Homo sapiens: one gene and its partners. The protein of the gene in region 3 binds, or shares a complex with, the protein of the main gene of each other region. Links are inferred from orthologs where the notes say so. Each region holds a gene or a part of one and is shown on either strand. Other genes may lie near its edges.

What was found.
Region 1: the proteins of CLTC (region 3) and CLTB are in contact, whole or in part, in a cryo-EM structure (PDB 6SCT), measured with the Sus scrofa proteins. The link is inferred for Homo sapiens from one-to-one orthologs. Residues at the interface, in NP_001139599.1 of Sus scrofa: Gln1291, Arg1293, Gly1294, Phe1296, Lys1326, Phe1327, Gln1354, Ala1355, His1356, Pro1382, Thr1383, Glu1413, Phe1414, Lys1415, Pro1416, Leu1417, Gln1444, Pro1446, Leu1447, Thr1473, Glu1474, Glu1475, Glu1503, Leu1504, Ile1505, Arg1508, Leu1533, Lys1535, Met1538, Lys1562; in XP_005661527.2 of Sus scrofa: Pro100, Ser102, Trp106, Gln110, Leu114, Ser121, Thr124, Glu125, Trp128, Arg129, Ala132, Asp135, Leu136, Trp139, Val147, Asn150, Lys151, Asn154, Arg155, Asp158, Tyr162, Glu191, Trp192, Lys194, Val195, Leu198, Cys199, Asp200, Phe201, Cys209.
Region 2: the proteins of CLTC (region 3) and GTSE1 are in contact, whole or in part, in a crystal structure (PDB 6QNP), measured with the Homo sapiens proteins. Residues at the interface, in NP_004850.1 of Homo sapiens: Val50, Arg64, Pro65, Ile66, Ser67, Ala68, Leu82, Lys83, Ala84, Thr87, Gln89, Phe91, Asn92, Ile93, Lys96, Ser97, Lys98, Asp143, Arg144, His145, Trp164, Gln182, Leu183, Tyr184, Ser185, Arg188, Lys189, Val190, Ser191, Gln192; in NP_057510.5 of Homo sapiens: Ser686, Arg687, Pro688, Leu689, Ile690, Asp691, Leu692, Met693, Ser707, Pro708, Val709, Val710, Gly711, Gln712, Leu713, Ile714, Asp715, Leu716, Ser718.

The regions. Positions count from the first base shown.
Region 1 is NC_000005.10:176,413,532-176,422,904, forward strand, and holds the start of CLTB (clathrin light chain B), read right to left. Parts: upstream 3,009-9,373; 5' UTR 2,833-3,008; coding exon 2,646-2,832; intron 1,533-2,645; exon of another isoform or gene 1,207-1,532; coding exon of another isoform or gene 922-1,206; intron 1-921. Other genes in the region: ARL10 (ADP-ribosylation factor-like protein 10), read left to right, coding at 922-1,206. UniProt on the Homo sapiens protein: Clathrin is the major protein of the polyhedral coat of coated pits and vesicles.
Region 2 is NC_000022.11:46,290,868-46,302,250, reverse strand, and holds the start of GTSE1 (G2 and S phase-expressed protein 1), read right to left. Parts: upstream 5,382-11,383; 5' UTR 5,320-5,381; exon of another isoform or gene 4,872-5,319; 5' UTR 4,851-4,871; coding exon 4,772-4,850; intron 1-4,771. Other genes in the region: TTC38 (tetratricopeptide repeat protein 38), read right to left, coding at 9,367-9,460. UniProt on the Homo sapiens protein: May be involved in p53-induced cell cycle arrest in G2/M phase by interfering with microtubule rearrangements that are required to enter mitosis. Overexpression delays G2/M phase progression.
Region 3 is NC_000017.11:59,688,710-59,697,456, reverse strand, and holds the end of CLTC (clathrin heavy chain 1), read right to left. Parts: intron 6,822-8,747; coding exon 6,746-6,821; intron 3,730-6,745; coding exon 3,605-3,729; 3' UTR 501-3,604; downstream 1-500. Other genes in the region: PTRH2 (peptidyl-tRNA hydrolase 2, mitochondrial), read left to right, coding at 1-18. UniProt on the Homo sapiens protein: Clathrin is the major protein of the polyhedral coat of coated pits and vesicles. Two different adapter protein complexes link the clathrin lattice either to the plasma membrane or to the trans-Golgi network.

The DNA of each region.
Region 1 (9,373 bases), on a different chromosome or scaffold from region 3:
CCCAGGGGCAACTGAGCCCAGTGTCAGCACAGAGATTGCTAATCTGAGGACCCCAACATCTAAGAGAAGGTGCCTCAGAGGTACTGACTGGCGGCCGCTGCTAAGCCAGCTTTTGCCCAGCTCTCAGCAGGCCAGGGCGCTTTTTCTCTGCCCCATCCAGGCTCCTGGCACACATCCCTGGTCAGGGGAAGATTACCTGTTCAGCACTGCATAGGCTGAGAAGGTCAGATCAATTCTAGCCCATCTGGCCATCCACTGAGCCGCCATCCCTCAACACCTCCCTGCTCCCCGATCCAACTAAGGAGGGCAGCTGAGCCTTTGCAGAGTCAGCAGGTATGCGCCTGGGAGACCCTCAGAAGGCTGTATCCCCGGCACCTCCCTGGAAGAAGCGAGCGTGTCATTGTTTCTCTCCCTGTCACCTCTGGTCTGAGGCCAATTTGTGCCCCACCCCTGCCAAGGACAGAACTTGCCATCCAGACTGTAAGTCCCTGGAGCCCCACCATCCTGGGAGAGGCCACAACCTGCTCAGCTCCCTCAGGCATCTGGCTGCCCTCAGCCTGAATCCCATCTTTTCTCTCCTGAGGTTCTCACAATGGCTCCCCTCAGCAGGACCTCCCCACAAGGCCTCCCTCCTCTTCCCTGCACCCCGACCCCAACAGGCCCCAGTGAGCCAGACTGAGGAAAAGGGTGGTCTCACAGAGGTGTGGTCCAGTGAATACTGGTGCATTAACTGGGGCAGGCATTTCTTAGGAATTCCCTGGGACACGGCAGATTCTGTATTGAGGTGCTGGAAGCTTCCACTTCAGAAGCCCTCCATTGCTGTCTCAGATAGGTGGCAAAAGACCCCATGCTTCTCACCCCACATCCTATCTCCTGCCAGGGAGGTGACTGCTATAGAATCTTTTTTTTTTTTTTTTTGAGACAGGGTCTCACTCTGCTGCCCAGGCTGGAGTACAGAGACGTGATCACAGCACACGGCGACCTACCTACACCTCCCGGGCTCAAGCTATGCTCCTGCCTCAGCCTTCCCGAGCAGCTGGAACTACAACTACAGCTACATGCCACCATGCCTGGCTAATTTTTGTATGTTTTGTAGAGATGGGGTTTCACCATGTTGCCCAGGCTCCACAGCATTTGAAAGAGCATGGAGCCCAGAGTTGGGAGGCGTGGGATCAAGTCCTAGATTGGTCATTCCTGGCTGTGTGACTCTGGGCAAGATACTCAGATTCTCTGGGCCACCGGTTTCTTGCATGTTACAAAAGCCTGGTTACATTTCTCATATCAAGGAGATACAGAGTTGCTTCAAACTCCTCAGCCACAGGAACTGTCTTATTCATTTCTGTATCCCCAGCGTCCTGACACACAGTAGGTGCTCAGTAAACGTTGAATGGATACAAACATGACTGTGAAGAGCCTTGTAAACATCATTAACCAAAATATGTCTATATGTATATATGTTAGCACTTACTACAACAGGCCCATAAACCTTTCCAAAATGACATCAACAGGAAGTAAAACCTGTTTTGGATGTACCCATGAAGGTGATATCTACTTTTTTACTAAATATTTTACAAAATCATTCTTGCTAGCCAGAACCAGGGCAGAAACATCATTGATAAAGATGATTTCACAGGGACTAGGCCCTGAACACTGAGGTCTGAAGCCAATCACAGTAAATCATAATAGCCCCGGACCACCTTTGGAAAACCATTAAGTCGACAACTACAAAACCCTGAAGGGCCCTACCGCATCTGACTGATGCCTCTTTGTGGCCCACACTCCGGTGTCTAACTCAGAGCCAGACACTTGGTAGGCAGTGTGGTCAGGTGGAGAGGGCTTCAAGTCCGACAGGAACAGGTTTAAATTCACGGCCAGGTGTGGTGACTCACACCTGTAATCCCAACACTTTAGGAGGCAGAGGTGGGAGGATTGCTTGAGCCCAGGAGCTCAAGACCAGTCTGGGCAACATAGCGAGACCCCATCTCAAAAAAAGGAAAAGAAAAAATATATATGTAAAAGAAAAAGAAACAGGTTTAAATTCTTGATCTGCCACTTACTAGTTATTTCAATAGCATACTCCCTTGAGCCTCAGTTTTACCATCTCTGAAATGGGTTCAATCACGTGTATGAAGTGATTAAATGTAACCAAGGCGCTTAGCCCAGCGACTGCCGAATGCCAGGCGGTCACCGGGGAAGGTTAGTGAGTTCCTGGAGCACCCAGGATCCTCTTTTTTCCCAGCTGCAGGAGAGAGCTAAGCCTGAGGGGCCAGGAGGGCTGTGTTCTGCCCACACCTGCACACTTAGCTGGGAGCCTGGGACACCCAGGCTATTAGGAGGCTCAGGAGGGACTCTCAAAACTGAGGTGGGGTTGGATTCCAGAGCCGGGCAGTGGGGAAGCTGGCCTGGGGATGAAATGTCATGACCGAATTCCTGTCCCGGGAGTCACCAGATCCACAGCCCCAGGCGAGGCCTCATCCCCAGCTCGGAAGTCCTACATGGAGATCTCCAAGAAGATTCTTCCCCACGTCTCCCAGCTCCTGCCCCGGGTGGCCTAGAGCAGGCTCTCTTCCCTGTGCCCCTGGGCCCCGGCCGGGGTCCCCCGGGTGCGCGCCCTGAGCCCCTCTCCAGGCCCCGCGCTGACTCACCCCCACTCGTGGGGCCCGGCTGCGCGGGGGCCGCATGGCTGCCGGCAGGTGCCCCGAAGCCCTCGTCGTTCTCTATGCCTGCAATCTCGCTCTCCTGCTGGGCCAGGAAGGCGGCCGCCGGGTCCTCCTCCGCCGCCTCCGGGGCACCGCTCTCCGACGACGAGAAGAAGCCAAAGTCATCAGCCATTTTCCCCGCGCCTCCGCCGGAGCCTCCGCTGCGCTCGGCTCTGCCCGCGCCTGCCCCGCGCTGCGTCCGGCGGCCGCGACGCTGTCACCCGAGCCGCGGGGGAGCCGGCGTCGGCGGGGACGGGCTTGGCGCGGACCGCACTTCCTCTCCGCCACCGGGCCCGGCTGGCTGTCACTGCGGTGCGGGCGCCGCGGCGGGAGGAGCGGAGCCGGAATGCGGTGACGTCACCGCGGGGGCGGGGCCGCAGGGCCGGGAGGTCGCCGAGCAGCGGCCGCAGGAGGGCGCCTCAGGACTGGGCGCAGCGCTGGGCCCGGGACCGGCGCGGCGCTTCCCTCCCTCCGCAGCGGCGCCCAGCTGCTCGCGTCGAGGACACCTGGGCTAGGCACTGCTCCCGCCCGGCCTGGAGGCGAAACGCAGGGCACAGAGTGGCCGTACCGTGCACAGAGCTGCGACAGGAGGCCACCTCTGGCCTCGGGAGCGCAGACCTGGCTCCTGATTCATTCTGCAGAAGTTTCTTCTCCTAGGTTGGGATGTCATGCACCTCATTCTATGAGCCTCCGCCTCTGTAAGAAGAGGAAAATTGAGGCTGGGAAAGGCTGCCCCGCACCTTTTCATGCAAGTCCAGGTCCTTTCCCACTAGGCCGTGTTGTTTTGTGTATTTTTTTGTGTATCTCCCTTGAGGAGGCTTCAGTTCATACGACCAGAGTTTGGATGGCCAGCTAGGCCCCTTAAATGTCCTTTAGGTATGAACCAGCCTGAGAAAGGCAGACCTGGTTTACCCAGGCAGCCTACCACTCTCCACGCTGCCCGCTGCCCTCTGTGAACAGGCTCTGAATGCCTCCTCCCTGCCTGCGCTTTGCCAAGCACCAGGACAGCAACGTTTTATAAAATCCAGCCATGGCCATGCGGAGATTACAATCCGGTGAGACCAACAGATGGCAAATGGCCTGTCAAAGCACTGTGTGTGAGGCGCTGTGACATTTAAACACGGGGTATAGGGAGACGATGCAAAGAAACACCATGGGATTTGGGCTGTCTGCTATTTCTAATGTGGGACTTGAAAGGCAACTATGAAATATGGACTGGAAGAGCGAAAGGAAAGATGTGCCGCCAAGTTGGGGGTGGAAGTGGAGTTGGGGTGAAGGGACCTTCCAGGTGTTTTTTTTTTTTTCTTTTTAATTTTTTTATTTAGAGACAGGGCCTCGCTATATTAACTGGGCTGGTCTTGAACTGCTGGCCTCAGGGGATCCTCCTGCCTTGGTCTCCCAAAACACTGGGATTACATGTGTGAGCTACCAAGCCCAGCTGGAACTTTCAGTTTAATTGGTAACAACTTGAGCACCTTTTGATGTTACTGTTTTTGGGGGGGTTTTTATTGTTTTATTTAATTAAATTAATGTATTTATTTATTGCTGTCCATTTGCATGGTTTTGTTGTTGTTGTTTGTTTGTTTTTTGTTTTGAGACAGGATCTTACTCTTGCCCAGGCTAGAGTGTAGTGGTACGATTATAGTTCACTACAGCTTCAACTCCTGGGCTCAAGTGATCCTCTCATCCTCAGACTTCCAAAGAGCTGGGATTACAGGCATGAGCCAACACACCTGGCCTTTTTGATGTTATTGTAAGTGGAAGTTTTATCTTCTTTTTTGATTGCGTATTGTTAATGCATAGAAATTTAACTGATTTTTGTGCATTGGCTTTGTATCCTGCTGCTTTGCTGAATTCATTTATTAGCTCTAACATTTTTTGTGTGTGGAATATTTAGGGTTTTCTGCAGATAAGAGCTTATTAGCCAGGTGCCATGGCTCATACCTGTAATCCCAGCACTTTGGGAGGTGGAAGTGGGTGGATAGATTGAGCCCAGGAGTTTGAGACCAGTCTGGACAACGTGGCAAAACCCCATCACTACTAAAACTACAAAAAATTAGCCAGACATGGTGGTATGGTGCCCGTAGTCCCAGTTACTCAGGAGGCCGAGGTGAGGGAATCACCTGAGCCCGGGAAGTCAAGGTTGCAGTGAGCTATGATTGTGTCAGAGGTGTGTGAATCAGAGCAAGTCCGTCGTAAACAGGATCTGGGTAAAATGAGGCTGAAACCTACTGGGCTGCATTCCCAGACGGTTAGGGCATTCTAAATCACAGGATGAGATAGGAGGTCAGCACAAAATACAAGTCATAAAGACCTTGCTGATAACACAGTTTGCAGTGTTGGGCAAGGTGGCCCACGCCTGTAATCCCAGCACTTTGGGAGGCCAAGGTGGGCGGATTGTGAGGTCAGGAGTTTGCGACCAGCCTGGTCAATATAGTGAAACCCCGTCTCTACTAAAAATACAAAAAATTAGCTGGGCATGGTGGCAGGTGCCTGTAATCCCAGCTACTTGGGAGGCTGAGGCAGGAGAATTGCTTGAACCCGGGAGGCGGAGGTTACAGTGAGCCGAGATCTCACCACTGCACTCCAGCCTGGGTGACAGTGCAAGACTCAGTCTCAAAAAACAAACAAACCAACAAACAACAACAACAAAAACCAGGTTGCAGTAAAGGAGCCAGCCAAAACCCACCAAAACCAAAATGGTGACAAGAGTGACCTCTGGTCATCCTCACTCCCACCAGTGCCAGGACAGTTTACAAATGCCATGGCAACATCAGGAAGTTACCCTATACGGTCTAAAAAGGGAAGGCACGAATAATCCACCCCTTGTTTAGCATTTCATCAAGAAATGGCCATGAAAATATGCAACCAGCAGTCCTTGGGGCTGCTCTGTCTATGGAGTAGCCATTCTTCTATTCCTTTACTTTCTTTTTCTTTTTTTGAGGTGGAGTCTCGCTCTGTTGCCCAGGCTGGAGTGCAGTGGTGCGATCTCGGCTCACTGCAAGCTCCACCTCCCGGGTTCACGCCATTCTCCTGCCTCAGCCTCCCAAGTAGCTGGGACTACAGGAGCCTGCCACCATGCTCAGCTAATTTTTTTTTTTTTTGTATTTTTAGTAGAGACGGGGTTTCACCCTGTTAGCCAGGATGGTCTCGATCTCTTGACTTCATGATCTGTCCACCTCGGCCTGCCAAAGTGCTGGGATTACAGGCGTGAGCCACCGTGCCCGGCCCCTCCTTTACTTTCTTAATAAACTTGTTTTCGCTTTGCACCAAGGACTCACCCTGAATTCTTTCTTGCGTGAGATCCAAGAACCCTCTCTTGGGGTCTGGATTGGGACCCCTGTCCTATAACAATCACACCACTGCGCTCCAGCCTGGGCAATGAGAGTGAGACCCTGTCTCTAAATAAATAAATAGCATCTGCAAACAGAGATACTTCTTACTTTCCAATCTGGGTTGCTTTTATTTCTTTTTCTTGCCTAATTTCTCTGGCTAGGACTTCCAGTACTATGTTGAATAGAAATACCAAAAGTGGGCATCCTTCTGCACAAGTTGTCCAAATCAAACTGGAGTCACTTATGCCAAACCCTAGCAAAATGGACTCAGGAGGCCATAAATGAGGGGCTCCCATGCACACATGCCTATGATAGAAAATATTACAAGGACTGTCTGAGGCTGGGCACGGTGGCTCATGCCTGTAATCCCAACACTTTGGGATGCTGAGATGGGCGGATCACCTGAGGTCTGGAGTTCAAGACCAACCTAACATGATGAAACCCCGTCTCTACTAAAAATACAAAATTAGCTGGGTGTGGTGGCACACACCTGTAATCCCAGCTACTCAGGAGGCTAAGGCAGAAGAATTGCTTGAACCTGGGAGGCAGAGGTTGCAGTGAGCCGAGATTGCCCCATTGTACTCCAGCCTGGGCAACAAGAGCAAAACTCCGTCTCAAGAAAAAAAAAAAAACCCAACAACAACAACAACAAAAAACAAGGATTGTCTGAAACCACAATCTTGCACAAAGGCCGTCACACCCATGCACGAAGAATATTTCTGCAATGACACCTGCCCAGCAATTGCCTGTTCAATCTTGGAATAATGCTACCCTTGTTATCAATCCTTGTAGCCAAGGATAATTTTTTCAAAACAACTTACGTAGCCTTCCTCATTTTGCCTTTAAAACCCCTTTCCTTCCTTTTTCTCTCTGAGTGCCCCCCTCCATGGTTCACCATAGTACATGTATTCCCTGGGATGCAACTGTAAACAAGAAAGTATCACAGACAGGTCTCAATCAATTTAGAGGTTTATTTTGCCAAGGTTGCAGGCACACCCAAGAAGAAGAGACACAAGACACAGTATGATCTGTGGCATGCACTTTTTTCCAAAGAAGATTTTGAGGACTTCATTATTTAAAGGGGAAAAAGTGGGCAGGAGGAGAAAGAAGAAAGGGGAAAAAAAGGAAGGTAGACAAGTGAGATAAGCCATTGCATTCTTTTGAGGCTTTGATTAGAGCTCACTGAATCCATACGTTCCATGTGAAAAGGACAGGGTAGAGGAATAGTCAATTACATATTCATCTTGCACTCAGTAAATCTGTACATAAGATAAACAGAGAGTAGAGGAAGAGTTCAAATATGCATTTGTCTGACAGGGGCGTGGGGGGGATGATTTCTAGTCTCCTTTTGTCCCGCACCTGTGAAGATAAGCTGTTAATTTACATTGTCAGGGTGAGGGAGGCCACCTGGGGAGACATGTGGCCTTCTATCTTATACCTATCTGTTTAGGAACAAAAGGAAAGGCAGTTTTTTTGTGTGGCTTAGTTTCCAAGCTTAACTTTTCCTTTTGAGTAGTGAGTTTGAGGTCCTGAGATTTTATTTTCCTTTCACACAATCTGATATGGTTTGGCTGTGTCCCCTCCCAAATCTTATCTTGAATTCCCATATGTTGTAGGAGGGACCCGGTGGGAGGTAAATGAATCATGGAGGCAAGTCTTTCCTGTGCAGTTCTTGTGACAGTGAATAAGTCTTACAAGATCTGATGGTTTTATAAAGAGGAGTTCCCCTGCACAAGCTTTTCTCTCATTTTGCCTGCTGCCATCCATGTAAGACATTAGTTGCTCCTCCTTGCCTTCCACTATGATTGTGTACTTCCCCAGCCACTTGGAACTGTAAGTCCATTAAACCTCTTTCTTTTGTAAATTGCCCAGTCTCAGGAATGTCTTTGTCAGTAGCATGAAAATGGACTAATATACAATTTGTCATTCATTCCCAAGTAATCTCACTTTTTCTTAGAGCCACTCTCCCTGTCGTTATTTTAGGTTGACTCTCTACTTGCTCCTGATCCTAGTGGATGAGCTTTCAGTCTTCCACCATGGAGTATGATGTTTGCTGTGGATTTCTTTTCTTTTCTTTTTTATAGAGCTGGGTCTCACTATGTTGCTCAAGCTGGTCTCAAACTACTGGGCTTAAGTGATCCTCCTGCCTCTGCCTCCCAAAAAGTGTTGGCATTATAGGTGTGAGCCACCATACCTGGCCAGATTTTTCATATATGGCTTTTGTTACATTATATAACTACCTTCTGTTCCTACTTTATTGACTGTTTTTATCATGAAAGGGTGTTGAATTTTGCCAAATGTTTTTTCTGCTCTATTGAGATGATCGCATGGTTTTTTTTTTTTTTTTGAGACGGGGTCTCGCTCTGTCACCCAGGCTGGAGTGCAGTAGCACGATCTCGGCTCACTGCAAGCTCCGCCTCCTGGGTTCACGCCATTCTCCTGCCTCAGCCTCCTGAGTAGCTGGGACTACAGGCGCCCGCCACCACGCCTGGCTAATTTTTTTGTATTTTTAGTAGAGACGGGGTTTCACTGTGTTAGCCAGGATGGTCTCGATCTCCTGACCTCGTGATCCGCCCACCTCGGCCTCCAAAAGTGCTGGAATTACAGGCGTGAGCCACCGTGCCCAGCCGTGTTTTTTAAATTAATTCAGTTAATGCAGTACATTACATTGATTGATTCTTGTATGGTGAACCACCCTTGCATTCTGGGTGTAAACCCCATTGGTCAAGGTACACAATCCTTTTATTGTGCTGTTGAATTCGGTTACTGAGTATTTTGCTGAGGATTTTTGCATCAATGTTCACAAGAGATAATGATCCATAGTTTTCTTTTCTACTAGTGTCTTCTTTTTTTCATGCTATTACTGGGACTTGTAGTGTCTTTATCTGGCTTTGGTATCAGCATAATGCTGGCATCATAGAAAGAGTTAGGAAGTGTTCTCTTCAATTTCTGTGAGAAGTTTGAGAAGAGTTGGTTCTTCTTTAAATGTTTAATGGAATTCACCAGTGAAGCCATTAGATCCTGGGCTTTTCTTTGTCAGGAGATTTTTGATTACCGATCCAATCTCACTAGTTATAGGTTTACTCAGATTTTCTATTTCTTTATGGTTTAGTCTTGATAGGTTTTTGTGTTTCTAGCAATTGTAATGGTGTGATCTCGGCTCACCGCAACCTCCACCTCCCAGGTTCAAGCGATTCTCCCTCCTGCCTCAGCCTTCTGAGTAGCTGGGATTACAGGTGTGTGCCACCACACCTGGCTAATTTTGTATTTTTAGTAGGGACAGGGTTGCTCCATGTTGGTCAGGCTGGTCTCACACTCCCAACCTCAGGTGATCCTCCT
Region 2 (11,383 bases), on a different chromosome or scaffold from region 3:
AAGCATATCTATAAAGTAATAAAAAATTAATAATCTAATAAAGATAGAAAAAGGATACAAACAGATAAAGTTCACAGAAAATAAAACAAAACATTCTTTTTTATTTTTCTTTATTTACTTTTTTTGAGACGGAGTTTCACTCTTGTTGCTCAGGCTGGAGTGCAATGGCGCGATCTTGGCTCACCGCAACCTCTGCCTCCTGGGTTCAAGCGATTCTCCTGCCCTAGCCTCCCAAGTAGCTGGGATCAGTATGAACCAGCATGTCTGGCTAATTTTGTATTTTTAGTAGAGACGGGGTTTCTGCATGTTGGTCAGGCTGGTCTGGAACTCCCGATCTCAGGTGATCCGCCCACCCTGGCCTCCCAAAGTGTTGGGATGACAGGCGCAAGCCACCGCACCTGGCCGAAACATTCTTAAATAGATGGCAAGAAGTTCAGCCTCACTCAAAAATAAGAGTAATGAGGCTGGGCGCTGTGGCTCCCACCTATAATCCCAGCACTTTGGAAGGTCGAGGCGGGTGGATCACCTGAGGTCAGGAGTTCGAGACCAGCCTGGCCAACATGGTGAAACCTCATCTTTACTAAAAATACAAAAAATTAGCCAGGCCTGGTGGCAGGTGCCTGTAATCCCAGCTACTTGGGAGGCTGAGGCAGGAGAATTGCTGGAACCTGAGAGGGGGAGTTTGCAGTGAGCCGAGATCGCACCATTGCACTCCAGCCTAGGGGACAAAAGGGAAACTCTGTCTTAAAAAAAAAAAAAAAAAGTATTAAAAATAAACTTGCTCTGAGAATGCAGTTTTCGCCTATATGACTGGCAAAACTCAAAGATGTATGAACTATAGGCAAGGTTGTGGGGAAAGAGACAATTTCTACACTGCTGGGGAAGGTGTAAATTATCACAGCTCTCTAGAGGGCCTGGCAGTACCTATCGAAGTAAGAAACACACACCCTCTTCGACCCAGCAAGTCTACTTCTGCAAGTGTATCCTACAGACACTCACAGGTGTGGAAAGCAATGTGTTGTGCAGTTACACGGTGTCCACAGTTATTTACTGCAGCATCATTGGTAACAGCAAGACTCTAGGCACAAACTAAATGTTCACCCACAGCAGATGAGATGAATGACATATCCCCAAGGTGGAACCCTATATAGGTACAAAAGCTAGTAATGCTCTTCATGTGTTGATACACAATATTCATCAAGATAAATTAAGCCTGAAAAACAAGATTCAGGACAGGGCTCTCCATGCTATATGGAAAGGGGGATGCAACACTCTATGCGTGTTGGCTTGCACCTGCACAAATTATGTCTGGAAGGATACCCAAGAGACTGATGACATCGATGGCCCTTGGAAGGGCAAGTAGGTGACTTAGAGATATAGAGAGGCAGACATTTCACTTTTTACACCTCTAAATTAGGAAGTCAATTTCAGAAACTTCTAATGGTCTGGCGTGGAAAAAGAATCCAGGACCAGAACTCAGGGAAGCAGTCTTCTGCTCCAGGCTCTGTGACTGGCTCCGAGGGGTCCCGGGCTGGCTGACTTGCTCATCCTGCAAACACATGAGCACCCACAACAGACCACATCCTTCGCTAGGTGCCAGGCAGGCTTGGGGTACATGCAGCCCACCCTGGAGGGTGCCTCAGGCAGTGCGGTGAGAGACATGTAGAGGTGGGAACACCTCTGAGAAAATATCAAAGCGTGTGTGAGAGGAACGGGTCAGAAGTCAGAGTGGCTGGAAGAGGTGAAAACACAAGTTGGGTCAGATCACAGAGGGTTTGCAAGCCATGGCAAGGAGCTTTTATTTTCTCCAAAGTGGGATAGGAAACTATTACCGGGCTTTAAGAAAAGAATTTTAGGCCTGGCGTGGTAGCTCATGCCTGTAATCCCAGCACAGTGGTAGGCTGAGGCAGGCGGATCACTTGAGGTCGAGTTCGAGACCGTCCTGACCAACATGGTGAAACCCCGTCTCTACTGAAAATACAAAACTTAGCTGGGCACGGTGGCTCATGCCTTTAATCCCAGCTACTCAGGAGGCTGAGGCAGGGGAATCACTTGAACCCAGGAGACGGAGGTTGCAGTGAGCCAAGATGTCGCCACTGCACTCCAGCCTGGTGACAGAACGAGACTCCATCTCAAAAAGAAAAAAAAGGCTGAGCACAGTGGCTCATGCCTGTAATCCCAGCACTTCCGGAGGCCCAGGCGGGCAGATCACGAGGTCAGGAGATTGAGACCATCCTGGCTAACACAGTGAAACCCCATCTCTACTAAAAAAAAAAAAAAAAAAAAAAAAATTAGCTGGGCGTGGTGGCGGGCGCCTGTAGTCCCAGATACTCAGGAGGCTGAGGCAGGAGAATTGCTTGAACCCAAGAGGCGGAGGTTGCAGTAAGCCGAGATCACGCCACTGCACTCCAGCCTGGCCAACAGTGAGACTCTGTCTCAAAAAAAAAAAAGAAAAAGAAAAAAGAAAAGAAAAGAGCTTTATAATCTAACTTGTGTTTTTAAAAGGTGACGTTACTGTGTAGAAAGTGTATCCGAAAGGAAGCAGATAATATCCCCTGACATTACAAATGCACATATTAGCCAACGGGAAGTAGAAGCCGGTGAGACAGCGTGGCTGAGACCCAGACAGCAGCATGTGGATGGAGATGGAGAGTCTGTAGATGGATTCAGGATATCTTCTGAAGGTGGAGAAGACGTTAGCTGGTGATGGCATGAATGTAGGAGGTTCTCAGCTTGCACAGCTGGGTGAAATGGAGAAATAAAATGGGTGATGAGAAAGACAAAAAGAACAGGGTATGCAGATGCAGAGGGGGTATGCCAAGTTTGAGATGAGACGTGCATGTGAAGACGCCAAATAGGCAGGTGAATATACAAGCCCAGAGCTCGGAGGAGAGGCTGCGCTCAAGACAAAACGTGGGTGCCGCAGAGAGCAGATACGCTGCACAGCTATTGGAATGCTGACCGCCCTGAGGGCGAAAGCACAAAGCGGTCCCAGAGCAGGTCTTGGGGAAATCAGCCTCAGAAGACAGCAGAGGGGGAGCCCCCGACAGAGAAAAGATACACCAGCCAGAGAGGCAGGAGGAAAAAACCAAGAGCGTCTTGGACTCCAAGCAAGGGAAGTTTCCAGAAGGACGAATGTTACTGAAAAGCTGACTGGCGATAGAAAAGTGAAAAGAGATTCAGCAATGTGGAAGTCGTCAACGACTGATGAAAGCAGCTTGAATGGAGTGGTAAGGACAGAAGCCGGAATGGGAGGGATTGAGAGGCGGAAAAAAATGGCATAACAAGTGAGAAAGCTCTCAAAGTTTGGCTTGGAAGGAGAAACACAGCAATGGAGAGGCAACGGAGGAGACGTGGCGACAAGTGAGACAAGGGAACATTATCTGTATGTGGATGCGCATGATCCAGTAGTGGACAGGGGAAAAGTAAGGAAATGAAGTCAGGTCAACGGAAGTGGGGAAGGCCTCAAGAAGGAGCAGGGGGTGCAGTATGCACGTGGAAAGGACATATTTGAAAGGAAGGACATGACAGGAAGGAGGAGAGGGGTGCAGAGGCAAGCGCCTTGCTAGATATGAAGATGCAACATTGATTTGTAAAGTCTCCAGGACAGTTCCTGCAAAATGGAGGCATTGAGGATGCTTGGGGCCAGGCGCGGTGGTTCACACCTGTAATCCCAGTACTTTGGGAGGCCTAGGCAGGTGGATCACCTGAGGTCAGGAGTTTGAGACCAGCCTGGCCAACATGGTAAAACCCCATCTCTACTAAAAATACAAAAATCAGCCAGGTGTGGTGGCGGGTGCCTGTAATCCCAGCTACTCGGGAGGCTGAGGCAGGAGAATCGCTTGAACCCGAAAGGCAGAGGTTGCAGTGAGCCAAGATCATGCCACTGCACTCCAGCCTGGGAGACAGAGTGAGACTTGGTCTCAAAAAGAAAGGATCCTTGGGTAGTGTGAGAAAACTACCCAAGGGATGTCAAAATGCTTTGTGAGGCTGGGTGAGGTGGCTCACACCTATAATCCTAGCACTTTGGGAGGCCGAGGCAGGCAGATTGCCTGAGCTCAGGAGTTCGAGACCAGCCTGGGCAACATGGCAAAACCCCGTCTCTGTTAAAAATACAAAAATGAGCCAGGTGTGGCAGCGGGTGCCTGTAATCCCAGTTACTAGGGAGGCTGAGGCAGGAGAATCCCTTCAACTCAGGAGAGAGAGGTTGCAGTGAGTACAGATCACGCCTTTGCACTCCAGCCTGGGTGAGAGAGCGAGACTCCGTCAATAAATAAATAAATAAATAAATAAAAACGCTTTGAGAGAAAAAGAGGGTGTGGCCTGTAACTCATTCTGTGAAGCTGTACCCTCACCTTGATACCCAAACCAGTCAAAGACACAAGAAGAAAGGGGTTTGGGGCCAGGCTTACTCATTAACATGGTCTCAAAGATCCTAAATAAGTCTTAGCAAACAGAAACCAGCGACAAACAAAAAAGAAAACATCGAATTCAATACAATAAATATTTGAGAGCCCACAAAGTGTTAGGTGCTGTTCAGGGCATGGGAGCACTGCGGTAAATAAAACGGATGAGAATCCTGGCTGTGATGAAACTTAAAATGGGGAGGAGGTGAAAGAAAACCAGAAAACGAAGGCAGATGTCATGTGTTTCACAGGTGCAGAGTACAAGTCGAGCACTTGAGAAAGAATTTCTCAGGGAAACATTAAATCACCCTCCATCTCTACTGAACATCCTGAACAACAACAGCGCCGCAGCAGCAAGGACTTGCCTTCCTTCTTAGGGTCATCCATGTTCACGTCCCCTGCCCGGCAGGCTGAAGGCTCATCGCGGCCGCCGCCTCCTTCCATGGAGAGAGCTGTCAGAAGTCACTGCAGGGTGGAACGGGGCCAGAAAGTGAGTACGTGTCAGGGCCCAGGGCTCCGGCTTCCTTCAGCCCTCGGCTCACAGAGGCAGAGAGAGCTGAAGGCCGCGGCCAGGTCTGGGAGAGGCGGCGCGGGGGCCGCTCTGAAATGATCGCATCCCAGGGGACCCCAGGGCCCGAGTGCCGCCAGGCCGGGAGTCAGCCCGAACGCCATCAGACGAGATAACGGAATTCTCGGCTTCTGGGCCAGAGTGTTGGGGGCTCTGTTTGCCTGGGGGGCAGCCCTAGACCTCCCGGCATCCCCGACCACGGCGCGAGGGGCCTCAGTGACCCCTGCTCGAGCCCAGGCCCGGCTCCTGGCGGGGCGCGGCCCCTCCCCGTCCCGAAAACGGCGGGCACCGCGCCGCACCGGGCCCACCGGGCAAGCCTCGCCCCCGACCCTGACCCCACCTTACCCAAAGCGGCAGACGATGCAGGACGCGCCTCCGGCACGGATTTAAACGCGGCGCCGGGAGACGCGGGTTGCCGATTGGTCGGTTTGAAAAGGGCTCCGAGAGGCGGCGGGCTGGGTGCGTCCTGGGTATTGTAGTCAGGACGCTGGTAAGAAGCGTCCAGTGCGCATGCGCACTGCTTCAGCGCAGCGAATGGCTCCGCACAGCGCCAGGGATCACCCACCCGGAAGTCTGCCCGGCCTGGCCGCCAAGTGTCACTAGGTATCCGCGTCAAGCCGGAACCATGTATAGCAGCTCCTTGTGTGTAGGGAGAAAGTTAAAACTGCCATCTAAGGGTGTCGATGGGAAGACTAAAAGTAGGCTCACCCACCTGCTGTGAAGCAGCGCGCGCGAGCTGTTACTAACAGTAGTGAAAAGCCGGGATCCCTGCCCCCGAGGCACGCACTGGGGCGCCGGCTGACCCAGAGACCTGAGGGAGACTCATTGCCGGAGCTGCACAGCCTGTGGGGCTGGAGGGGAACCGTCGCCCTTGGCGGGCTTCCCCAACCGCCAAGGCCTGAGGACCGCCGAGGGCGTGGCGGGAGCCTGTCCTCGGTTTTACAGGCCGGCTGGGGAGCTGCGTTGGAGGAGAGAGCCAGGGGCTGGGGCCCGGTGATGGAGCCTGCCTTGGGGAGTGCATGTGTTGGAGAGAGGTGGGAAGCAGATAGGATAACCCTGACCTGAGCCATGGAGACGCAAGGACAGGACTGGTAGACGGGTCAGTGGGCAGCAACTTAAGACTGACCTCGCTTGAGCCTTTGCCTGCGAACGAGGTATAATACCCACCTCGGGGGCTTGAGGATCAAATGAGGGGCTCCACCCACGGCAAAGTGTCACTAAGCGGGATGGAGGAGGATGCAGGAAGAGGAGTCTGGGAGGACCCGCTCTGAAAAGGATGGAACTCGAGAGCACCATTTTCAGGGACGAAGATAAGCTGTTTATTTGGGGCAGGCTGTGGGGAGAGCTGTGCAGCAAACAGCCACCCGGGGCCCAGGGCAGAGGCCTTCCAGGCTGGCTCGGGCACTTCTGGGTCCCATGTCCCTGGTTTTGCATCATCCATACCAATCACTCCATGTTGCTATGTTCCTTCACCAGAAGACTGGGGGCTCAAAAAGGGCAGGGCAGCCCTCACTCACCAGTCTCCCCAGCCTCACCCAGCTCAGCACAGGGCACCAGGCAGGGGCTGAGAGTGCTGGGGTAGGTGGGTGTGGTCAAACAGCTTGGAAAGAGTTTGGCCTGCTCATTGCATTCCCCTCAGCTCATCCTGGGGATGTCTGCTCATGGGAGAATGGCAGAGGGATCCCCAACAGTCATTCCTGATACTCCTCTCCCTGTATCATGTCAGCACATAGTAGGTGTGGCCTATGTATGGCAGATTCATTTCTGCCCCCAATAGGATTTGCTGTAGTTTGGATGTGTGTCCCCTCAAAATCTCATGTTGAAATGTGATCCCAATGTTGGAAGTGGGGCCTGGTGGGAAGTAATTGGGTCGTGAGGGCAGATCCCTTATGAATGGTTCAGCACCATCCCCTTGGTGATGAGTTCTTGCTTAGTTCACACAAGATCTGGTTATTTAAGAGTCTAAGACCTCCCCTTCTCTCTTACTCCTGCTCTCACTATGTGATATACTGGCTCCCCATCACCTTATGTCATGATCTTAAGCTTCCTGAGGTTGCACCAGAAGCAGATGCCAGCACCATACTTCCTGAAAAGCCTGCAGAACTGTGAGCCAATTAAACCTCTTTATAAATTACCTAGCGTCAGGTATTTCTTCATAGCAATGCAAGAAGGCCTAATACAGAGTTTGACTTCATTTATTTATGCCTTCATTCACCAACTTTCACTGACAGCTACTCAGTGCAGGCCATGTGCCAGGTGATGCTGGGGACAGATGCTGTCCCTGACCTGGAGAGGTCATGGCAGGGGTGCAAGAGCAAGGGCAAGTGCCAAGGGCTGAGGGGCACAGAGGCAGCACCCTCACCAGCCTGCAGTGGGGGTTGGCGGGTAGAAGGCTTCCTGGAGGAGGGACCAGGGTTCCCAATTGCACAGCCAAGTCATGTCTTCTTGCTTGGAACCAGGAGAGGGGAAGGAGGCTCCCCTTAGGATGTGTCCCTAGTTCTTGGGTAGAGAAGGCGCCTCTCTGGAAATACTACTATAATTACCCCTTTTCTTTCTTTCTTTTTTTTTTTTTTTGAGACGGAGTCTTGCTTTGTCGCCCAGGCTGGAGTGCAGTGGCGCGATCTCCGCTCACTGCAAGCTCTGCCTCCCGGGTTCACGCCATTCTCCTGCCTCAGCCTCCCGAGTAGCTGGGACTACAGGCGCCCACCACCATGCCCGGCTAATTTTTTGTATTTTTAATAGAGATGGGGTTTCACCGTGTTAGCCAGGATGGTCTTGATCTCCTGACCTCGTGATCTACCTGCCTCAGCCTCCCAAAGTGCTGGGATTACAGACGTGAGCCACTGCGCCCGACCTCCCATTTTCTTGACTAGATGCCCCACCTACTTTTTTTTTTTTTTCCCTTGAGATGGGAGTCTCGCTCTGTTGCCCAGACTGCAGTGCAATGGCACGATCTTGGCTCACTGCAATCACTGCCTCCCAGGTTCAAGTGATTCTCCTGCCTCAGCCTCCCGAGTAGCTGGGATTACAGACGTGTGCCACCATGCTCAGCTAATTTTTGTATTTTCAGTAGACACAGGGTTTCACCATGTTGGCCAGGCTGATCTCGAACTCCTGACATCAGGGGATCCACCCACCTCAGCCTCCCAAAGTGGTGGGATTACAGGCGTGAGCCACTGCGCCTGGCCTGCCCCACCTACCTTAAGTTCAAGGAGAAGCCATCTCCCCAGGACCCAGCCCCAGGCCTGCACCACAGATGCTCAAAGACTTGGAGGAACTGATGAATTCATTTTAATCACAGAAATTTGCCTGGGCTTGAGCAAACTGTGGGGACTCAATAGATTTGGAGGCCTCCTCTCCCTTCTGAGAGGCCTGCCTGCTTCCTGCCCTGATGAATCCCTAATTTCAGTACAAACTGAGGAACTTGAAAAACATCTGTGCACTGGGACCGCCCCTCACAGGAGGGCTGAAAGCAGCACAGCTGAGTCAGCGGCACATTCAGCAGGCGTTCAGTGGGGAAGCAGGAGACAGAGGCGGCGCTCACAGGACCCGCTCCAGGCTTGTCACAGCCACACATCACAGCACTTTGGGTTTTGCCACAACAGAGCAGCTCTGAGCTCAATCCTTGCACCTCAGAAGTGCATTTATGATTAAAATCATGCTCGACATGAAGCCCTGTTATGATGTGCAGTTTAAAAAGAGAAACGGGTCCAAATCAGCACCAACAGAGCCCCCCAGGGGGCTCCAAGACTCGCCCCAGAGACAGCAGAAGGACCCCATGTGCGCGCTGATCTGTAAGAAGGGTGGTGGATGCAGCAGCAGGGGGCTGCGTCCAAAGGCAGCAGGTGGGGGCCTCTCATAGTGTGACCCTGGGCAGGCCACTCCCCTACCCCGGTACCCTCACCTGAAAAATGGGACAGCAACACAATGAGACAACAGAGACTGTCTAGAATATAAAGAAAAGAATGAAAAGGTCCATCCCAAGGGCAGCCTGGTGGGGACGGGGACAGGCAGTGGGGGGAGGCTGCCTCTGGAAGACCTGTCCCAGCAGAATCAGCCCCCACCTCTGCCCTGCCTTCCAACCTTTGAACCACCAGGCAGTAGACACATTCCCCTGGGAAACAGAATTTGCAAGGCAGGTGGAAAGAGCAGCACTCACACTGGCTGTGACTGCTGAAAAATGCTCATTGGCCCTTCTCGAGGACTGAAAGGAGATTCGGAATCACATTTAAAATTAACCCGTGACCCACTTCCTGTAAAACTGAAGATCACCCTCTAACAGCCCTAACAAACAGGCTCTGGCCGTCTCCTGACCCTAACCCGGTGGAGCAGCTGACTGGACGCAGTGACGCCACCACTGAGGTTCTGCAGGGTGGAGGCGGCCAGGCTGGCTCACTGCATGAGGTGGACGGTAGCTGCCTTGCGGATGAGCCGCTCGGTCAGGGGCGAGTTGGGCTTCAAGGCATCACGCTCCATCAGAAGGCTCCTGTGGAAACAGACACAGAGGTCCTGTTACAGAACCTTCTAGAGGGATGTGGGGCCTGGTGGTCCCTTGGTCCCAAGGCAGAACACAGGCAGGCTAGACTGCGGCACTGAGGGAACAGCAAGGGCCAAGGCCCAGGGGCAGGAGGCCTGGCCTCAGTTTGGGGAGAGGTGAGGATGGGAGGGCACAGACCTCCAGTGCAGGAAGCCACACCCGAGATGGGGCACAACAGGTGGCAGTGGGGAAAACCCAGGTTTGAAGAGAGAAGACCCAGGTACGGTTTGAGGTAAAGACCCTGCTGTGGACTGAATGTCTGTGTCCAGGCTAAATGTATATGTTGAAGCCCAAATGCCCAAGGTGATGGTATTAAGAACAGGGCCTCTTGGAGGTGATTAAGTCATGAGGGTGGGGCCCTTGTGAATGGGATTAGTGCCCTTATAAGAAGAGATAGGTGTGGTGGCTCACCCCTGTAATCCCTGCACGATGGAAGGATGAGGCAGGAAGATTCCTTGAGCCCAGGAGTTTGAGTTTACAGTGAACTGTGATCACACCACTGCATTCCAACCTGGATGACCGAGTGAGACCTTGCCTCTAAAAATATAAAAAAATTTAAAAAGAAAGAAGAAAGAAGAGACGTGAAAGAATTAGCACTCAAAGGAAAGGTCATGTGAGGACACAGCAAGAAAGTGGCTGTCCACAAGCCAGGAAGAGAGGCCTCAGCAGAAACTGAACCCAGCCAGGCCTTGTTCCTGGACATTCCAGCCTCCAGAACTGTGAGACAGTGCATGCCTACTGTGCAAGCCGCCCAGACTGTGGCACTTTTATTTTTTAATTTTTTGAGATAGAATCTCCCTCGGTCACTCAGGCTGGAGTGCAATGACGCGATCTCGGCTCACTGCAACCTCCACCTCCCAGGTTCAAGCGATTCTCCTGCCTCAGGCTCCCGACTAGCCGGGATTACAGGTACCCACCACCACGCCCGGCTAATTTTTTGTATTTTTAGTAGAGGCGGAGTTTCACCATATTAGCCAGGCTGGTCTTGAACTCCTGACCTCAGGTGATCCACCCGCCTTGGCCTCCGAAAGTGCTGGGATTACAGGCATGAGCCACCGTGCCCGGCCTGTCTGTGGCACTTTTAAAATAACAACCCAAACTGACTAAGACAGCCCCCAAACACCTGAAAACAGTGGTTCTAGAGGGCGTGGGTGGTGTGAAGGGGCTGGGGCCGGGAACTCATTGTGGGGGGCACCATGGCTGTGGGTGGAAGGTTTCCCACCTTGGGGGCTGGTGAGCTGTGCTGATGGCCCCATGGATGCTGCCTGGTAGCAGGACAGGACTTGGAGAGAAGGCCCCCTCCACGTCTCCTAATGCAGTCGGCTCCCTGTGCAGCCTGCTCTCCCCCTGCCCTCCCCCACTGGGCCCCGCAGAAGGCCACATCGGCACTGCCGCACTGCCCCACAGATGTCACCCCAGCTCCATCCTCAGCCCTCCTGTCCACACAGCCACTTTCCCCACCGCTGCTGCCAGAGGCACCAACTCCCACCCACACCACAGCCTGAGCTCCCCAGGGGGCTTGACCACCAAAGAAACACGCATGGTTTTGTCTACAGCCATGGAAGGGGAAAGCGGGGAGCATGCGTCCAAGACATTTTACAGTTCTAGGCGGTTCCAGTGCTGCCAGCCAGACCTGTTTCATGAGTACCACAGAACCTGTACAGCTCAGTTTGGGTAACCCTGCCTGGAGGGAGCTGCGCTGGTGCACCTGCGCCTAAACCACTGGGCTTGTCACCAGCCAAGGGCCTCCTGTGGACCCGGGCTGCCACCTGCTCTCACAGCACACCTTCCCCACCAGGCACCCCATGACTCCTCTATTCTTCCTTTCACTTATGTCTGAGGGTGGCAGGGACATGGGCAAGGAGAGGTGTC
Region 3 (8,747 bases):
CACCTAAAACTTTACTAGGTGGACTTTGATATGACAACAACCCCTCCATCACAAGTGTTTGAAGCCTGTCAGATTCTAACAACAAAAGCTGAATTTCTTCACCCAACTTAAATGTTCTTGAGATGAAAATAAAACCTATTCCCATGTTCTATGGTTGGCAGTTGTCATCTTGGGCTTAAAAACAGTACTGTTGGTTAAATGGTCTTGGTGGTTCAAGTGAGAGGCTGAAACAGATATTTAAGATGAGAGAAACAGGTCATGATACAATTGGATTAAAATGGAGGAAACAGCATTTCCCTATACATGGTTAGGTCCCTTTGTGTTGGTAGCCCTTCCCCAAGACTATGCTGCTGTCCCCCTGGAGGTCGAGGTTCAAGGGTATTCCCACTAGAGGCAAGCTGCAGTTTGTTCCCCTGCTGTCACTTTTTGGGTGACTGATACAGCCACCCTCAATGGAGTCCCATGGTTTATAACCTGTTTAAATTTTGTCTCCAGGTTGAGTTTTATAGCATTGATACAACCTACTGTGCAGTGTTTCATGTTCACCTTCCCTGACCCATACTGGCCAAAGGTTAATCAGCAGTGGTTCTAAATCACAGCCTATTAAAGTTTCTCACTTCCCCCCTTTCTTGTAACAATGAAGCCACTGAAACTTGAGTAACCTTATGGACCTTAACAGATGGAAATGGGTGGGCCCAAGTAAGAATTTATGGTAACTGTAAAGTGAACGTAGTTTGTCATCCCTGCTAGTATTTTTTCCTAGAACTAACTTTGACAATTAAGGGTGCCTTTTTTCCCTTTTGATCTTTAGATACACTTGATACAATCCTAATAATTACTATGTTATACCAGTTACCCAGAATATGAGGCAGAGGGTCCCAACTCCCCAAGCCACATAGCTTCCTGATAGTCATCTTGTTAGAAACTATTTAAGCCTTCTTTTAGGAGGATACTGACAGTAATTTCTAAAATCAGTGTATCCCCAAGAACTGTAATGATGCCAGGGAGAATTTTGGTAATAGGCCCATTTTAAGTGGCTCCACCTCTCTATGGTTAACTGCAATATAAGCAGCGTTATAGCACCATCTCAAGGTCTAAGGTCATTGGTGGAGTATTGTGGGCAGAACACTAAAGACAGCCTTGAAATTTCTAATATTTGATTCATTTAATACACTTCGCACAGGCATATGACAGCACAGGAGAAAAATTGCAACTGTGAATGATGCCACAATAGCAACTATTTCTAAACAGAATGTTTACTGGCTGCAAAAGTGATGCAACAAAATGCAACGTTAAGACTGAGTTGAACTCAGTGCTAAGTGCATGATTCTGGCTCAGGTAATTTCTGAGGTTTGCCTCAGATAGACTGATGGCTCCAAATTCAAAGGTAGTGGCATTCCCAACAGGATGGCATGGGGTGGCTAAGTAACTGTCATGGCATATCTACTAAAAGGAATACTATGAAAATTCTGGTAATTGTGGATATATGCTTGTTTTCTAGTTCATCTGTACTTGGTATTTTATAGAACTCATAATCTTATAGTTTTCAAAGTATACTCTGCAGAACCCACAGGGTCTCCACAGAGTCAATGTTTTCATAATACTATTATTATTTTTTTTTTCTCTGTGTTGATATTTGCACTGAGGGTGCAAAAGCAGTGGTGGGGAAAACTGATGGCACCTCCCACAAATCAAAGCAGGGGCACCATTGTATTCTTCACTGACCTGCACTCACATTAAACACTTTCACTTAATGTCCTGGATGAAACTAAATAGGTTTTTTTGTTTTTTGAGACAAGAGTCTCATTCTGTCACCCAGGATGGAGTGCAGTGACGTGATCTTGGCTCACTACAACCTTTGCCTCACAGGTTCAAGTGATTCTCATGCCTCAGCCTCCTGCCTCCTGAGTAGCAGCTAGGATCTTATAGGCATCCACCATCACACCTGGCTGATTTTTTATTTTTAGTAGAGATGGAGTCACCATGTTGGTCAGGCTTGTCTCGAACTCCTGGCCTCAAGCAATCCGCCTGCCTCAGCCTCCCAAAGTGCTGGGATTACAGGCATGAGCCACCACACCTGGTGGGACAGGGATTTTAAGTTTTAAAAAACTCTTCTGTGGAGCTTATGTTAGGTAATTTGCCTAAGAGAGTTGTAAAGCAGTGCAAGACTAACTAGGCAAGGGGGTATGTGTAGCTATTGAGGATTAAGGGATAGTGAAATGAACTTTAGGAACATTCTCAGCCATAAGCAAGAGCTGGATTCACACAACCAATTTTTGAAAAAAATCAAGATACCCATAATTTGGGCACCTTTATAATTCATGATGAGAAAGAGCATGTTAACTACATGTTTAAATATATTTTATTTCAAGTTAATATAACAGCCATGATTTGTTCATTTAAGTGAAATGCTTCGATAAAAACCTCGGTGTCACTTGGTTAAAATATTGGAGACAGATTAAATGTTAAGCCACTATAGTAGTGACTCTGGTTCTTTAGACTATTGCATGTACCTTGTTAATGAACTACAGGAATGCACATTGATATAATGCACAATGTCTTCACATGTCTCAATCCTCATTCCTCTTCCTTTCATGCCTCCCTAATGCCTCAGTATCCAATATAAAACTACAAAAACTACTGTTCTTTTCGTTTGAGTGGTATTTAATTAAAACTTCAATTCTATGTTATTTCCACAGTCCAGTAATTTATTTTAAATTTGAGTAATTTCAAATTCCACAAACAAAACTGAAGAACAGCAATATTTTGTTTGAATTTCTCTCTTCTGTACACTCAGTGATCTAAAACACCACAATATCCAACATACACAAACCTCAGGGAAGGGTTAGTAAACACACACAAGATTGGAATCATGGTGCTCTTTGCTCCTGAATGGAATGGTCCCACAGAAAAAGCACAGGATACAGCACAACATAAGGGCACCTGTTACATATGAAGTGAGCAAAACATACTAGCATTTTCTATATGCATAATGGGGAAACCTGCATAGGTTAGAGGGCCTTTTACGCTCATTTAAAAATCAGGCAAGTTGTCTGTAACATTTTTCAATAATCTGGGAAGCACTGCAATCCAGTGTACGATGTGCTGATTAGTGTTGTCTTTGTTGGCACTGACAGTCTTGCATGGTCATATGCCAGTGTTTTTGCTTTAGCTTTTCTTTGAATAAAACAGATTTAAATGCATTTAGACAATACGTATTTGTAAGCTGTTTACATACACTAAATTTAAGAGATTCAATATTAGAGTTTCTTTGTTTCTTTAAACACTACAGAGTGCAAATCAGGTTCTTCACAACAGATTGAATATTGAGCAGTTCTTTAAAGAAAGAGGGGGAAGAAAAAAAGCCCAAGTGAATAAAACATTGAAACTATTCCCCTTCGAAAATAAATTCTAAAATGATGTGGAATGTGAAATAAGGTTTTAACATAGGTGATCCAAGTTTATAGTTAGAAACAAAAAGAAGTCCTTCATGAAATAAAGGTTACAAGAACACGTTGCCTGTTTTCCCCCATTATAAACTGAGAAGTGGGTAAAGACGATGTTTCAGTACGAAAATAGGTGACTACAGGATCAGCGCTTCATCTCACATGCTGTACCCAAAGCCAGGCTGTGGCTGTCCATACGGTGGTGCGGTATAACCATAACCAAAAGGTGCCTGGGGAGGGACGGCAACACTGGGTCCTGCTGTCAGCATCAACTGGGGCTGACCTACAGTAGAAGAAAACAAAAAGGAGCAGGGGGCAGGGGCAAGGAGGCAGGACAAACTGTTAGCATTTAGAACACTCCAATCTCCTCCACTCTAGCAACATAATCTCAACCTCAAATGAGTTGTATGGGGGGCACATTTGATTGCTACAATTTTAGCATGACAGTCTTACTCTAAGAAGGTTCCTACCTAAAAAGCCAACAAACAGTGCAGGGCCAAAGGCCAGAACTGCTTATGACTGAACACCGTATGCCTGACACTCTGTATACTTGACACATACCTACATGCATATTACACTTCATGACACAATAAAATCAGCACAATAAAAGAATTTTTTAAAAGACTTTTTAAAAAAAAAAAAAAAAAAAAGAATCTGGCTCTGTTGCCTAGGCTGGAGTGCAGTTGTGTAATCTCGGCTCACTGAAACCTCTGCCTCCTGGGTTCAAGTGATTCTCGTGCCTCAGCCTCCCGAGTAGCTGGGATTATGGGTGTGCGCCACCATGTCCAGCTAATTTTTGTATTTTTAGTAGAGACAGGGTTTTGCCACGTTGGCCAGGCTGGTATTGAACTCCTGGCCACAAGTGATCAGCCCATCTTGCCCTCCCAAAGTGCTGGGATTATAGGTGTGAGCCACCATGCTTGGTCTAAATGACATGTTTTTAACATAACTTTTAGAGTTACATTTAAATTTCTGATTTAAACATGTCTAAATGGCAATGAAACCAAATTCATTTATAGAAGATCCAGTACTAATTTAGAGACAGCAGTTAAATTAAAAATAAGACACATTTGGGCCGGGCGCGGTGGCTCACGCCTGTAATCCCAGCACCGTGGGAGGCCGAGGAGGGTGGATCATTAGGTCAGGAGTTGGACACCAGCGTGGCCGATATGGTGAAACCCCGTCTCTACTAAAAATACAAAAAAAATTAGCCGGGCGTGGTGGTGCATGCTTATAATCCCAGCTACTCAGCAGGTTGAGGCAGGAGAATCACTTGAACCCAGGAGGCAAAGGTTGCAGTGAGCCGAGATCACGCCACTGCACTCCAGCCTGGGTGACAGACGAGACCCCATCTTGGGGGAAAAAAAAAGACATATTCAGACATTCTTTAGGTATGAAATACATTAGAACATACACCCTCTATCAAATACTATGTTGACACTCTTTCTTATAAAGTTTAAATAGTTGTTGGCCATATACAGAAAACATGACCTGTAGAGAACTTGGCTTAGAGAGCGAAAACAAGTAACACCTCTCTCTACCCCTACAAAAGTATTTTTAACATCCCACTACAGTGTAAACCTAGATCAAGATTTCTCCTACACAAAGGACTTCATGTCTTTGCTTTTTGTGGTTAACAACCAAAGCTGTCTTCAGCAAACAAATTATTATTGGAAACCAGTTTATTATTATTTTTTGAGACGGAGTCTCGCTCTGTCGCCCAGGGAATGCAGTGGTGCAATTTTGGCTCACTGCAGCCTTTGCCTCCCAGGTTCAAGCAATTCTCCTGCCTCAGCCTCCCAAGTAGCTGGGACTACAGTTGCATGCCACCATGCCCAGCCAATTTTTGTACTTTTAGTAGAGATGGGGTTTCACCATGTTGGCCAGGATGGTCTTGATCTCCTGACCTCATGATCCGCCCACCTTGGCCTCCCAAAGTGCTGGGATTACAGGCGTGAGCCACTGCACCCAGCCAACAGAAACCAGTTTTTAAAAAGTCATCCCTAATCTTGATAATGACATCTACTTGAAATTCCAACCCAATTTTCAACTACCCATGAAAACACCCTGAAGGCAAGCCAAATTCAGTAGGTAACCCCAAAGTATTACACCCATCTTTTTTTTGTTCCTACTGTGTTTCCTATGTCTTTTTCACCTTTAAGGACTTGATGTGTTTCCTATCTCAAACATGTCAAACATCTTGCTCCCATCTCTAAGAACCCACTTTATCAAAACTATCCTGTCCTCTAAATTCCTAAAGTACTTTTTATCTACAGTAAAAAGGAGACAAAACCATAATAAGTGTATATATTATTATTTGTGTCAGTAGCCTGATATATAATGGTTATATATATATATATGTATATATATATATATATTTTTTTTTTAAGGCGGAGTCTTGCTCTGTCACCCAGGCTGGACTGCAGTGGCACGACCTCGGCTCACTGCAACCTCTGCCTCCCGGGTTCAAGCGATTCTCCTGCCTCAGCCTCCCAAGTAGCTGGGACTACAGGCATGTGCCACCACGCCCGGCTAATCTTTTGCATTTTTAGTAGACACGGCGATTCACTGTGTTAGCCAGGATGGTCTCAAGCTCCTGACCTTGTGATCCGCCCGCCTCAGCCTTCCAAAGTGCTGGGATTACAGGCATGAGCCACCGCACCCAGCCATAATGGTCATATTTTTATGTTCCCTCACCTGGTTATTGTGCTTCTACCTATACTCTTCAAAGTGATTGTTCAAATGAATCTGTTCACCAACTATGAAATGGAAAGGAGCAGTAATTCAGACATGTAGGTTTAAGAAGACATGAAATTGTCTTAAATATTCACTTGAGAGTTTGAAGATCCTATCTCTCTGGAAAGTTCTCAAATGGAAACTCTACCCAGTTCTCTGCCCCAGTTAGAATTTAAAATGAGGATGTATTCTTTATGTAAAGCATACTAAAGACAGCCTTGGCATGTTCTCTCACCTTTTGCTCTTTTGAAAATGGAATTCATCAATATTTCTTTTTCAGTAATTTATGAGCAGGTAATGCGTGAGGGACCAGATGATAGGAAAGATTCATGTTATGATTTTAAATGACTATTTTTGAGTTTTCTTGTATTTAAGATTATTTTAGTGAATAATATCAACACCTGCTTTATGACTTCTCAGAAAAAAAATCAGACAGTAGAGAGCAGTATTTCTTAGAAAGCCTTTTGCACTTTAGAAGCTTGTTGTATTCTATTTTGAGGCACAGTCTCTAAGTAATTAAATATTTGTCTAATGAATTTTTTGAGGTTACAGAGAGAGATTACCATAAACAATGGGTTGTGTCTCTGTAGCTTGTTCTTCTTCTTTTCTCAGTGATTCTGAAGCATCTAATTTATCCACCTGGAGAAAAACACATCATGTTAATTAGCACCCCAAAAGTATTATAAACCTAGGTTTATGGCAGAAAGTGGAAAAGCCTTAGTATGTTAAATTCTGTCAAAATAAAACAGACTAGAAAGAACATTCTCAGTCCCCCTCAAATTCAATGGCAATGTTCATACTTCAGTCCAGGTGGTTTTCAGCACTGTCATTATAAACCCTCAGGAAGGAGGGATTCAAAATGCCATAAAAGCTCATGCCAGACTAAAACTGGGCATGCTAGGATGCAGCCTGAGGGAGGGAGAAAACGAGAAGGAACCACTTTTCAAATGAAGTTTAAAACTGATCAGAGGTAATAATGAATTCATGGTCTGGCAATACTTCCCTCCCCAAAGCAAATGGTATTCAAAAAAGTGAAATGATCCTAGTGACTGGACAAGTATTTGGGCAGAATAAGCTATTCTTTTGCCAATTGTGTATAACTTCTGATGATATTGGTTATAGCTGCAGACTGAAGTTTAAGATTCAAGTGGCTCCATATTCAATCTTTTTGCATAAAGAAAGGCTGCATGTTTTAATACTGTGTGGGCTCTGTTATCTAAGAAGTAATCAGGAAAGCCTGATTTTGTCCCAAAAATGTTTGCTTTTAATTGAGCCAAAAGTAAATGGCTACTATATGCTAGCTACTCTTCAAAGTGGATAGTATCAGACAGAAGTAATTCTGTAGAGCAGGCCAAATGTATTAGTGAAAGAAAGGAATTAGAATGCCTGGATCCTTCCACTAACTAGTTGTGTGACCTTGGCAAACCATTGCACTGGCCCTCAAATTTCCTTTCCTATATAATGAGAAGATTGAACAAAATGATCTGCAGTTTCTTCTAGGGCTAACATGATTTGATTCTGTAATTCTGTAATGAATTAGACAGAAGTGACATTACAACCCTGGGACTAGAGAATCTCCTTCACTATACAAATTCCATTGCGCCTTTTACACTATATTTGTCTTTCAATATTTAAAAGCTGGTCTCTCAACCAAAGCCTTATACTTGGTCTGTCATTATACCTAAGTAAAACTAAATTTCAAATCTCAATGTTATCTATTACTGGTGGTTTTCAATGTCATAAATGTGCTGCATGAGACGGGGGGCCAAGGTGCAGGGGGAAACACTTTATGAATGCTCACTGCATGTTCTTCAAAAAGGCAAATTATGAAAAATCACTCAAAAAAAAAAATTGTAGACTTCAGTGGAAAAGTTTCTAAAAACCAGGTCCTAAAAAGATTAAGGCAGCACCTCATTTCTGTTTGAAACTATTAAAAAAGTATCTTTCAGTCTTCACATAGGCCATTAAGGTTAGGGCACTGTTTTATATTTAATTGTTTCATATTAAATACCATAAATATGAGTCTAATCCATCTTAATTTGTTAGGGAACTGAAAGTTTGAGAAAAGTAAGCCTAAGTAGGCTCCTTCAGATGAAATGTGGTTTAATTTCTAGCCTAGGAAGATGGATTAGTTTACTTTTATACACTATTATCCTACTTTATAGTCTAAATGATGTGTTACAAATTACCCTAATATCAAATTAAAGACTATTATGTAGTATAAGTACCATATGAAATGTCCATTTTTTGGCATCCACACTTAGAACAAAAATTATTAGTTATAGAACTTAAAGCACAGCTCTGTGCCATCAAGGATCAGATGGGGTTTTGCTAACTAACCAGTATTCAAGAAAGAGCTACAGAAGTTATAAAGAAAAATACATGGATGCCTGTATATTAGTAACTTCTAAGAAAAAAGAAGAAAAATGAAACAACCAAAAAGCCACCACTGCATAATACATTTCCGGACTTCCAGGGAAAAGAATCTGAAGTGAACATGTGTTTAAAAGTTAAGGTCTGAATCAGATGTTGAACACAGAAGTCCTATTAGAGAAACACATGGAA